Linked DNA regions of Homo sapiens: regions 1, 2 and 3 are each linked to region 4. The links come from fine-mapping of genetic effects on gene expression. A gene starts in region 4. Each other region holds a variant in brackets. All regions are shown on one strand. Distances are from middle to middle. Region 1 overlaps TRAP1 (TNF receptor associated protein 1). Region 2 overlaps TRAP1 (TNF receptor associated protein 1). Region 3 has its middle 16 kb from the start of SLX4. Region 4 holds the start of TRAP1 (TNF receptor associated protein 1).

Evidence for each region. PIP is the estimated chance that this variant, and not a neighbour inherited with it, causes the effect. A credible set is the group of variants that fine-mapping cannot tell apart.
Region 1: its variant is the best candidate, but not a certain one, in a credible set for the expression of TRAP1 in whole blood (TOPMed, PIP 0.57).
Region 2: its variant is the best candidate, but not a certain one, in a credible set for the expression of TRAP1 in lung (TOPMed, PIP 0.58).
Region 3: its variant is the best candidate, but not a certain one, in a credible set for the expression of TRAP1 in whole blood (INTERVAL, PIP 0.89).

The regions. Positions count from the first base shown.
Region 1 is chr16:3,682,960-3,685,645 of GRCh38, reverse strand. The region is part of intron 4 of TRAP1 (TNF receptor associated protein 1); the gene reads left to right. Among named protein-coding and RNA genes, the nearest start is that of DNASE1, 30 kb to the right of the region's middle. The variant T/A (reference allele first, on the strand shown) is at 1,358.
Region 2 is chr16:3,673,256-3,675,941 of GRCh38, reverse strand. TRAP1 (TNF receptor associated protein 1) reads left to right here. Exons shown (of 18, transcript NM_016292.3): 8 at 545-618; 9 at 1,448-1,603. It also overlaps the pseudogene LOC124903630. Among named protein-coding and RNA genes, the nearest start is that of DNASE1, 20 kb to the right of the region's middle. The variant T/A (reference allele first, on the strand shown) is at 1,086.
Region 3 is chr16:3,626,445-3,629,130 of GRCh38, reverse strand. It overlaps a transcript of DNASE1 not described here. Among named protein-coding and RNA genes, the nearest start is that of SLX4, 16 kb to the right of the region's middle. The variant TTTTTTTTTTG/G (reference allele first, on the strand shown) is at 1,184.
Region 4 is chr16:3,716,154-3,718,839 of GRCh38, reverse strand. It overlaps TRAP1 (TNF receptor associated protein 1), which reads left to right and starts at 1,316. Exons shown (of 18, transcript NM_016292.3): 1 at 1,316-1,419. The coding sequence starts at 1,332. RefSeq lists silencers at 966-1,575, 1,596-1,715.

The DNA.
Region 1 (2,686 bases), 33 kb after region 4:
AAATGCCGACGAAGCAGTGCTGTGGCTGCTGCTGTAGCCTTGTGGAAATTTTAAGGCTGAAAAGTTAGGCCAAAGAGGATCAGGTAGGGGCCCTGAGAGACATTGCATCCAAAGACAGCTGCCTCAGGACCTGTCATCCCAGGGTCACGGCGTCATTGCGGGGGTGTCTGTCTCTGTGGAGAGGTGGACAGACTGGCCTCGGTGGGATCTGAGTATTCCCTTTTAGGGTGCTGGCTTGCTCTGAAGGTCATGCCACATAAATGAATGCAGGCACGCGTGAATGAATGGACTTGTGAAGGGATGGCTGTTTTAATTAAAGGAGGGGCTTTTGTGAGGTGTCAGCTTTACGCACTCCCTCTTGGGTTTAGAGAATCCAGACTGAGCCCCGTGGTACGTGCCAGCTGTTTGTCATAGCCCTTGGTCATAAGGATTGGGTGGGGAGTGGGTTTCTTCTCTCCCTGCCTTTGCTGAGCTGGCCTGGCTGTGGAATGGGCCCTGTGGGCAGGGCTGCAGCGCCCTGTGCTTTCCTCCTGTTTTCAGCACAGAGGTTCCTTGCAGATGATTGAAAATGGATGTGCTGGGGCAAGGGGTCATGGGGACATGATTCTTGGTCTTTAGCAGAGGGGCCAGTCCTCATGTGCCAGTACTTCCTGGTACTAAGACCATTTATGTTACAATAATGATTTTTGGTTTTGTCTTTTGTCTTCTTTTTTCTTAAAGAACAGTTCTAGATTTACAGAAAATTTGAGCAGGTAATTTAGAGCTCCATTATATCCTTTGGGACCCAGTTTTTCTATTCTCAATAGCCGATGGGAGCGTCATGGTCCATTTGTTTCATCTTTTTTCCTTTTTTTTGGAGACAGAGTGTGGCTGTGTCGCCCAGGCTGGAGTGCAGTAGTGTGATCTCAGCTCACTGCAGCCTCCGCCTCCCAGGTCCAAGCAACTCTCGTGCCTCAGCTTCCTGAGTAGCTGGGATTACGGATGTGTGCCATGATGCCCAACTAATTTTTGTATTTTTAGTAGAGATGGGGTTTCACCACGTTGGCCAGGCTGGGCTTGAACTCCTGCCCTCAAGTGATCTGCCCGCCTTGGCCTCCCAAGTGTTAGATTACAGGCATGAGCCACCATACCCAGCCCATTTATTACAATTAATTAACTAATATTGATAGATTATTCTTACCTAAAGTTTTAGAAAAGGAAGCTTTCTTGTGGGGTCTCAGAGGTATTATGCCATTCCATCTCATCTACTGATATCTCAGCTACATTGCTTTTTGTTATTTTTAGGGGATTTTCTAGGGAATAAAATATGCAGCCTTAATTTATCACTGTCTAGCTTGAATTGATATTTAACACTTCA[T/A]TGTAAGAATCTTACAACAGTATCATTCCGGTGGCAAAATCATCTTTTTCTTTTGATGTCAAATATTTTATGTATATACCTGTTGTAAACCCTCACAAATTCCTTTTTATTTTTGTTTGAGACAGAGTCTCATTTTATTGCCTAGGCTGGAGTGCAGTGGTATGATCTCACCTCACTGCAGTGAGGCCTCTGCCCCCCGGATTTAAGTGATTCTCCTGCCTCAGCCCCCCAAGTAGCTGGGTTTACAGGCACATGCCACCACACCCGGCTAATTTTTGTATTTTTAGTAGAGATGGGGTTTCACCATGTTGGTCAGGCTGGTCTCAAACTCCTGACCTCAAGTGATCTGACTGCCTTGGCCTCCCAAAGTGCTGGGATTACAGGCGGGAGCCACCGCGCCTAGTCTCACCATTTCCTTTTAAAATCACATTGTGCGGGTCGCCTGGCAACAGATGATTTCTGTCTACATCTGAAAAATCTATAGTTTTTTTTTTTTTTTAGTAAATATTTTAGAACAGATTTCAATTTTCAGAAAAATTTTAAAGATAGTACAGCGTTGCCATCTACTCCAACACCCAGCTTCCCTTATGATTGAAACCTTATGGCCGGGTGCAGTGGCTCACGCTTGTAATCCCAGCACTTTGAGAGGCCAAGGTGGGCGGATCACCTGAGGTCAGGAGTTCAAGACCAGCCTGGCCAGCACGGTGAAACCCCATCTCTAATAAAAATACAAAAATTAGCCAGATGTGGTGGTGTGCACCTGTAATCCCAGCTGCTCAGGAGGCTGAGGCAGGAGAATTGCTTGAACCCGGGAGGCGGAGGTTGTGGTGAGCTGAGATCGCGCCATTGCACTCTAGCTTGGGCAACAAGAGTGAAACTCGTCTCAAAAAAAAAAAAAAAGAAATGTTAGTATATTACATTGGTTACAGTTAATCAACCGGTATGGATATATTATTCTTAACACAAGTCTATTCAGGTTTCCTTAGTTTTTACCTCATGTCCTTTTTCTCTCCCAGCATCCCACATGACATTTAGTTGTCCTGGCCCCTTAGCTCCTCTTGGCTGTGACAGTTTCTCAGACTTTCCTTGTTTTTGATGACCGGGAAGATTTTTTTTTTTGAAATGGGGTTTTGCTCTTGTTGCCCACGCTGGAGTGCAGTGGTGTGATTTCAGCTCACTGCAACCTCCGCCTCCCGGGTTCAAGCAATTCTCTTGCCTTCAGTCTCTCGAGTAGCTGGGATTACAGGTATGTGCCACCATGCCTGGCTAATTTTGTATTTTTAATAGAGACAGAGTTTCTCCATGTCGGTCAGGCTGATCTTAAACTCC
Region 2 (2,686 bases), 43 kb after region 4:
GTAGGGTGCACAGGCAGAGCCGTGAAGGGCCGAGCCGCTGCGGGACTGGGAGGGGGGCTGCCCGCCAGGGCTGCGTAGCATCGAGCTCCTGCTGGGACTGGGAGGAAGCTGGCCTGGCTGAGGCGGACCTCCTCCTCCTTCCTCTGCGTGGCCCTTGGCCTTTAGTGCACCTGGGGGTTTGGCGCAGTCCTGTCCCAGGATGTGGGCGTGGCCTTCCCTCTTTGTGTCCTGCTGGACACTCAGGGAGGCCCTGAGTACCCCCAGGAGTCAGCCCAGAAAGCCATGTTCCAGCCACAAGCTGACATTGCAGTCTCGCAGCAGCCGGGGCCTCCACAGCTCTGGTTCTCACGTGGGCTCCGCTGCTGCCCCCGTGAGACTGGGGGGAGGACAGGTGTCCCCACTGTGCCCTGTTTCTGTACCTGTGAAGTGTACACAGCATGGAGGACCCTTCCCAGCAGGCTGGCGCTCATCCTGGAGCTGCTGCAAAGCTTGCGTTTCCACAAGCATTGTAGATGCAGTGTGGTTTTTCTTTTGTCCCTTCCAGATGTGGTAACGAAGTACAGCAACTTCGTCAGCTTCCCCTTGTACTTGAATGGAAGGCGGATGAACACCTTGCAGGTGAGCCCTGAGTTCCTCTAGGGACTGGTCAAACATGGAGACAAATCTGTACGTTTCAGGGCAGCGGAGAAGAGATGAGCCCAGGGGATGCGGCCCAGAGTCACAGGGCGAGCTGCTCTGTGGAGATGAGACCTGGGTGTGGGGATGAGACAGGGGCCCAGCTCTACCACAGCCCTGCCCCTGTGCACCGGGCAGCCGGGGTCAGGGGTCAGGGTTCACTGAGGCGTAACGCCCATCCCAGCTGGCTCACCACATCAGTGTGCAGCCATGGTGTTCAGTGCAGCCACAGAGCTGTGCAGCCACCCCGCATCAATTCCAGAACATCCCATCACCCCAAAAAGCAGCCCTTTCCCCACTGCCCCTCCCCCAGTCCCAGCAGCCACGGTCTCCTTTCTGTCCATTGTGCTGCCTGTTCCAGACGTTTCTCCTGGATGGAGTCACACGGCATGCTGTCCTCAGTGACTGAC[T/A]TCCCCCTCGCGGCTCAGCTGCGGTGCAGCGTGGGTCGTCATCGCTCTCACGGCCCACACTGTATTCGTCAGCTCGCCCCTGCTGGGCAGCGTCATCCTCTCCCACAGGCCCCCTCAGGTCCCGGCTGGTCCTCCTGACATGTTGTCCTGAGGAGCTCCTGCCCCAGAGCCTTGTGTGTCTCCCCTGCACTACCCGGCATAGCCCAGCGGTGGGGCTGGAGAGGGGTCTACGCCTGAGACCACCGCCCGTCTGTCCCAGGAGCCTGTCCAGGGCCAGGCGCTGCACTGGCTCAGGCCTGCACGGTGGTGGAGAAGACGTGCGTGGTGAACACGACGCCCTCCCCGCCGATCTCCGTTTCCAGGCCATCTGGATGATGGACCCCAAGGATGTCCGTGAGTGGCAACATGAGGAGTTCTACCGCTACGTCGCGCAGGCTCACGACAAGCCCCGCTACACCCTGCACTATAAGACGGACGCACCGCTCAACATCCGCAGCATCTTCTACGTGCCCGACATGGTGAGGCACTGTGGCAGTCCCACGGCCCTCAGGGTGACTCTGTTGTCCCCTGTGGCATCAGCTCTGCAGATGTCACATGATTAACATGGCAGTGTGAGGGCATGAAAAACATAGGTAGTGCTGGGTGTGGTGGCTCACGCCTGTTATCCCAGCACTTTGGGAGGCTGAGGAGGGTGGATCACCTGAGCCCAGGAGTTGCAGACCAGGCTGGCCAACATAGTGAGACCCCATCTCTGAAAAAAAAGAAAAAAAGAACAGATGCCTCTGGGTGGGTAACCACAGAGGTTTCCTCTGTCTCAGGGGTCACACATGGCGAGGGAAGGATTGATGGGCATCTCAGTGCAGGCTGGGGTGGAGGCTTGTGGACTGGGGTGTGCCTGGGGAGGGCCCTCAGAGCCTACATCATCTGCTGTGGATCAGTGGATGCTGTCCTGCCAGGCGCTCTGGGAAGGGCCTGTGGTCTTGCCTCTCCGTTGGCCTCTCTGTGTGCTTCCTCCACACCCTCCACCTCCCCTGGTTTCCTTTACCACATTGAAGTTCCCGCAAATCCTGCCGTAAGGAGACCTATTCGGGGCTGAGAGCCAGCCCGTCCTGCCCCCAGGCTCTTCTGTCCTTGGCTGCCTGGAAACTCTCCTAATGTCCTGCACAGCTGGCATCCATCTTGGAAAGAGCCAGCCAGGTGTGGCCTCCAGGGGCTTGTTAGAGTCTCAGGCCCCACCCAGGGCTCCTGCGTGGGAGCCCACATTTTAATAAGATCTCCCCGCATTTTAACCGGATCCCCCCCATTTTAACCAGGTCGCCCCACATTTTAACCAGGTCTCCCAACATTTGAACTAGATACCCGCCGCATTTTAACCAGATCCCGTGATGAGGTGTGGGTCCCGGTTCGGGAAGTACCAGTGTGGAGCAGGTGTTGGCAGGCACGTTCCACGAGGGCCAGACAGGAGCTGGTCCCAGCGTTTCGGGCCCGGTGTCTTTCGTAGCCACTAACCCTGCCGGGTGAGGAAGCAGCACTGCCCTGCTGCCCTCTGAGCACACAGGGCCGGGTCCCATGAGCTGCGTAGACACTGAAATTTGAGTTTC
Region 3 (2,686 bases), 90 kb after region 4:
GCGCAATCTCGGCTCACTGCAACCTCCGCCTCCAGGGTTTAAGCAATTCTTCTGCCTCAGCTTCCCAAGTAGCTGGGATTACAGGCGCCCACCATCACACCCGGCAAATGTTTGTATTTTTAGTAGAGACAGGGTTTCACTATGTTGGCCAGGCTAGTCTCAAACTCCTGACCTCAAGTGATCCGCCCGCCTCGGCTTCCCAAAGTGCTGGGATTACCGGCGTGAGCCACTGCGCCCAGCCTAAAAGTTTTTAAAGAAAAAAAAAAAAACAGAGCCAGGCACGGTGGCTCACGCCTGTAATCCCAGCACTTTGGGAAGCTGAGGCGGGCGGATCACGAGGTCAGGAGATCGAGACCATCCTGGCTAACACGGTGAAACCCCGTCTCTACTAAAAATACAAAAAAATTAGCCGGGCGTGGTGGCGGGCGCCTATAGTCCCAGCTATTCGGGAGCCTGAGGCAGAAGAATGGCGTGAACCCGGGAGGCGGAGGTTTGCAATGAGCCGAGATTGCGCCACTGCACTCCAGCCTGGGCGACACAGCGAGATTCCATCTCAAAAAAAAAAGAAAGAAAAAAACAGAAATGCACATTGAATGAACATCATACTCAATAGTGAATGACTAAAAAATTTTCTTCTAAGATGAGAACATTCACCTTTACCACTACTATTTAACCTAGTACTGGAAGTTCTAGCCATAGCAATTAAGAAAAAAATATATATCCAAATTGGAAAGAAAAAAGTAAAATTAATTCACAGATTTAATATGATATGTAAAAAACTAGGCCTAAACATTACACACAAAAAATAATTACAATAACAGAATCAGCAAAGCAGCAGGATACAAAGTCAGCACACAAAAATCATTTGCATTTCTATATACTAACACTGAACAATTTGAAAAGGAAATTATAAAAACAATTCCACTTACAATAGCATTAAAAAGAATAAAATACCTAGGACTTTTAACCAAGGAGGTAAAAGATTCATACAATGAAAACTACAAAACATCGCTGAAAGAAATTAATGAAGATATAAGTAAGGAAAAACATCACACTTTCATGGGTTGGACGATATTGTTAAGACAAGATATCTTAATATTGTTAAGATGTCAATACTCCCAAAAGTGAGCTACTGATTCATATGTAAACTGAAGCAAAATCCCAATGACTTTTTTTTTTTTTT[TTTTTTTTTTG/G]CAGAAATAGAAAATACATGCTGAAATTCATATGGAATCTCCACGGACCCCAGATAGCCAACACCATGTTGAAAAAGAAAAACAGATTCAGGATTCACACTTCCTGATTTCAAAACTTACTAACAAACTGCAGTAATCACAACAATGTGGTACTGGCAGGAAGACAGACATACAGACTATTGGAATAGAGTTGACAGCCCAGAAATAAATCCTGGCATATATGGTCAAATGATTTTGACAAGGATGCCAAGACCATTCAACGGGGAAAAGATAGTCTTTTTAATAAATGTTGCTGAGAAAACTGGATATCCACATGCAAAAGAACATGGATATCATATCAAAGTCATAGGAAACAAAAGAAAACACAGACAAGCCAGGTGCACTGGCTCATGTAACACTTTGGGAGACTGAGGTGGAAGGATCACTTGAGCCCAGGAGTTCCAGACGGGCCTGAGCAACATAGTGAGGCCTTGTCTCTATAAAAAAATAAAAAATAAAATTACCCAGCCATGGTGGCACACACCCATAGTCCCATACTCGGGAGGCTTAGGTGGGAGGATGGCTTGAGCTAGAGTTCAATGCTGCAGTGAGCCGTGATCATGCCACTGCACTCCAGCCAGGGTGACAGAGCAAGACCACCCTGTCTAAAAAAAAAAAAAAAAGGATATGTCATGCAAACACTAATCAAAAGACAGCTGGACTGGCTATATTAATGTCAAACAAGCAAAGTAGACTTCATAGCAAAGAAAATTACCAGTGATAAAGAGGGCTGGGTGCAGTGGCTCACGCCTGTAGTCTCAGCACTTGGCCAACATGGGAGGATCACTTGAGGCTAGGAGTTTCAGACCAGCATGGGCAACATAGGGAGACCCTGTCTCTACCAAAAAAAAAAAAAAAATTTAAATAAGCATGGTGGCATGTGCCTGTGGTCCCAGCTCCTCAGAAGACGGAGGCAGGAGAATCACTGGAGCTCAGGAGTTCAAAGCTGCAGTGAGTTTTGATCACATCACCGTGCTCCAGCCTGGGTGACATAGCAAGACCCTGTCTCTAAAAAACATAAAATAAAATAAATAAAAGAGGGCTATTACATAATGATAAAAAAGGTCAATTCATCAAGACAGCATAATCCTAAGTGCATACGCATCTAACAAAAGAGATTCAAAATAAATGAAACAAAAACTGACAAATGAAGAACAGACAAATCCACTATCAGAGCTGGAGACTTCAACACTTCTCAATACATAGAACCAGTAGACAGAAAATCAGCAACCTGAACACCATCATCAACCAACTGGATCTAACTGACATCTAGAGGACACTCCACCTAACAACAGAGAAATATATAGTGTTTTCAAGTGTTCAAGCTTGGAGCACTCAAGATGGACTATATTCTAAGCCATAAAAGTCACAAAACAAATTTTTAAAAATTGAAATCATATAAAGTATGATCTCTGACCATAATGGAATTAAACTAGAAACCAGTAACAGAAAAA
Region 4 (2,686 bases):
CAAGCAATTCGCCCACCTCGGCATCCCAAAGTGTTGGGATTACAGGTGTGAGTCACCGTGCTCGTGCCCACAACCCCTTATCTTCACCCAGACACTCTTTTTATTGATTCCAGGTCTGTATAACTCAACTCTTTTTTTTCTTTTTTTTGTTTTCTTTTTTTTTTTTTTTTGAGACGGAGTCACAGCTCTGTCGCCCAGGCTGCAGTGCAAGTGGCACGATCTCGGCTCACTGCAACCGCAGCCTCCCGGGTTCACGCTATTCTTCCGCCTCAGCCTCCCCAGGAGCTGGGACTACAGGCACGTGCCACCTTGCCCAGCTAATTTTTTGTATCTTAGTAGAGATGATGGGTTTTCACCATGTTGGCCAGGCTGGTCTCGGACTCCTGACCGCAGGCAGTCCGCCCACCTCAGCCTCCCAAAGTGCTAGGATTACAGGCGTGAGCCACCGCGCCCAACCAGAACTCAACTCTTTTAACCAATTGCCAATCAGAAAGTATCTGAATCCACCTATGACCTCTAAGTATTTCACCCTTTGAGTTGTCCTGCCTTTCCACACGGAACCAACCTATGTCTTACATGCATTGACTGATGTCTTATGTCTCTCTAAAATGTATAAAACCAAGCAAGCTGTAACCCAAGCACCTTGGGCCAAGTTCTCAGGACCTTTTGAGACTGTGCCTCCCTCCATGCACACTCATATTTGGCTCAGAATAACCTTCTAAATACTTTAGAGTTTGACTCTTCTCGACAAGGACAAGAGAAGTGGAATAAACGAATAACCGCAGTTTTCCTGGTGGTATTGGTCACTGGGTTCAGGTTTTGGAGTAGTAGCCAGTCAAGCCTGGAATCCCCTTCCTCATTCGCTTTAGCTTTTTGTCCAGTCTTGGTTTGCAAGAGACTTGCAGCGGCCTAGACGGATGGCCGGGATTCACAAAGGTCGCAGACACGGGAACTGCTTCTTCCCCAGCGTCGCCTCCACACCCTCGCGTGGATACTGACATCCGCCCCATTCCAGGAATGCGCACAGCTAGGCGCAGCCGGCCAGCGTGGGCCGGGGGCGGCGGGGCCACCTCCCCCACCTCCGCGCGCAAGGCCCGTCGCCCTTGACAACGCGATCCAAGGTCACGGAGGTCCCACCCCCAGGCCCGACCGTCCACGAGACGGGTAGTACCCCGCCACGCGCCCGAGCAGGCAGCTGCCCGGACAGCCCGGCGCCCGCCGTGACGTCACCGCCCCGCGCCCGAGGAAGCCCCGCCCCGCGCAGCCCCGTCCCGCCCCTTCCCATCGTGTACGGTCCCGCGTGGCTGCGCGCGGCGCTCTGGGAGTACGACATGGCGCGCGAGCTGCGGGCGCTGCTGCTGTGGGGCCGCCGCCTGCGGCCTTTGCTGCGGGCGCCGGCGCTGGCGGCCGTGCCGGGAGGTGAGGGCGTCCTGGCTGGACGGGCAGCGGGCGGGCCGGGCCACGGAGACGGCAGGGACGTCCCTGTGCTCCGGGGAGCGAGGCGCCGGCACCTGCTTCACAGGCGTGGGAGGTCCGGCGAGGCCAAGCGCGGCAGACGCGTTTACTTTCGCTCCGCTCCTCGCCAGCTCCAGCTTGGCTGCCTTTTCCTCGGCTGGACTCCCCTCGCCACCCGCCCATGGGAGCCCTGAAGGAGGCTGGGTCTTGGGGGGTCGCGGGGTCGGGCGGAGCGGCTGCGGGGTCGTCCCTCCTGGAGCTTCGGTCCAGTCAGGTAGCGCACGTGCAGGTGGAGCCGCTGCGGAGCGCGGAGTCTTTGCGGGTGCATGTTGCGGGGAATGGACTCACTCGGGGTGATCGTGCTAGTTCCATGGATCGTGCTTTACCCCTCCCCGCCTCCCAGTAGCGCACTGAGGGTTCATTTGTTAATTCGTTCATTGGACGCACATGTGAGCGCCCGCTCAGTGCCCGGCGCCGTGCAGGTTCTGGGGACGCCACAGTGAACAAAACCTATAGCAGTCATCCGGGTCCCCAGAGCAGGTGGACTCGATGTCGTTGACGCAGCTGTGTCCTCGGGGCCTGGAATTGATGGATGCGCCAATAAATGTTTGTAAAACAGAGAGAACGACCCTAACCTCTGCTTTCCCAGTCCCCACTCGGAGGTAACAACAGTGAAAGTTTCGGCATTGCTTCGGGGCTGTACACAGTGTTATACGTGTAAATATAAATGTCTGCGTATAAGTATTTTTTATTCTAAAAAGCCTAAACCATGTATGCATTGTGCTACGTTGTACTTCAGAAAATTTTAACGCTCCCAGCATTCTTTCCACATCTTTTCATGTCAGTGTATACAGGTCCATGTGCCTTCCAGTGACCACACAGTATTCTGTATGATGGACGTGTCATTTGTTTAAACATTGTCCTATTAGTGGACGCAATAAAGGTTATTTCAGGTTTTACTTTTTATTACAATGCTGCATAGAATGGGTGAGTACTTAAATATTTGTTCACGTGCGGTATTTCTTTAGCCTTACATAATTAGAATTTTAGAATTGATATTTCAGAGCCTATGCATTTTTGAAATGTTAGCAGATACTGCCAAATTGTCCAAAAAGGCCTTATCAATTTATATCCCCTTTAGCAGGCATCAAGACTGCCTATTCCAAAGGTATTTTCTTCAACGCTGAATCTTATGTCTTTTCAAAACCAGTGGTCTATAAAAGATACCTTG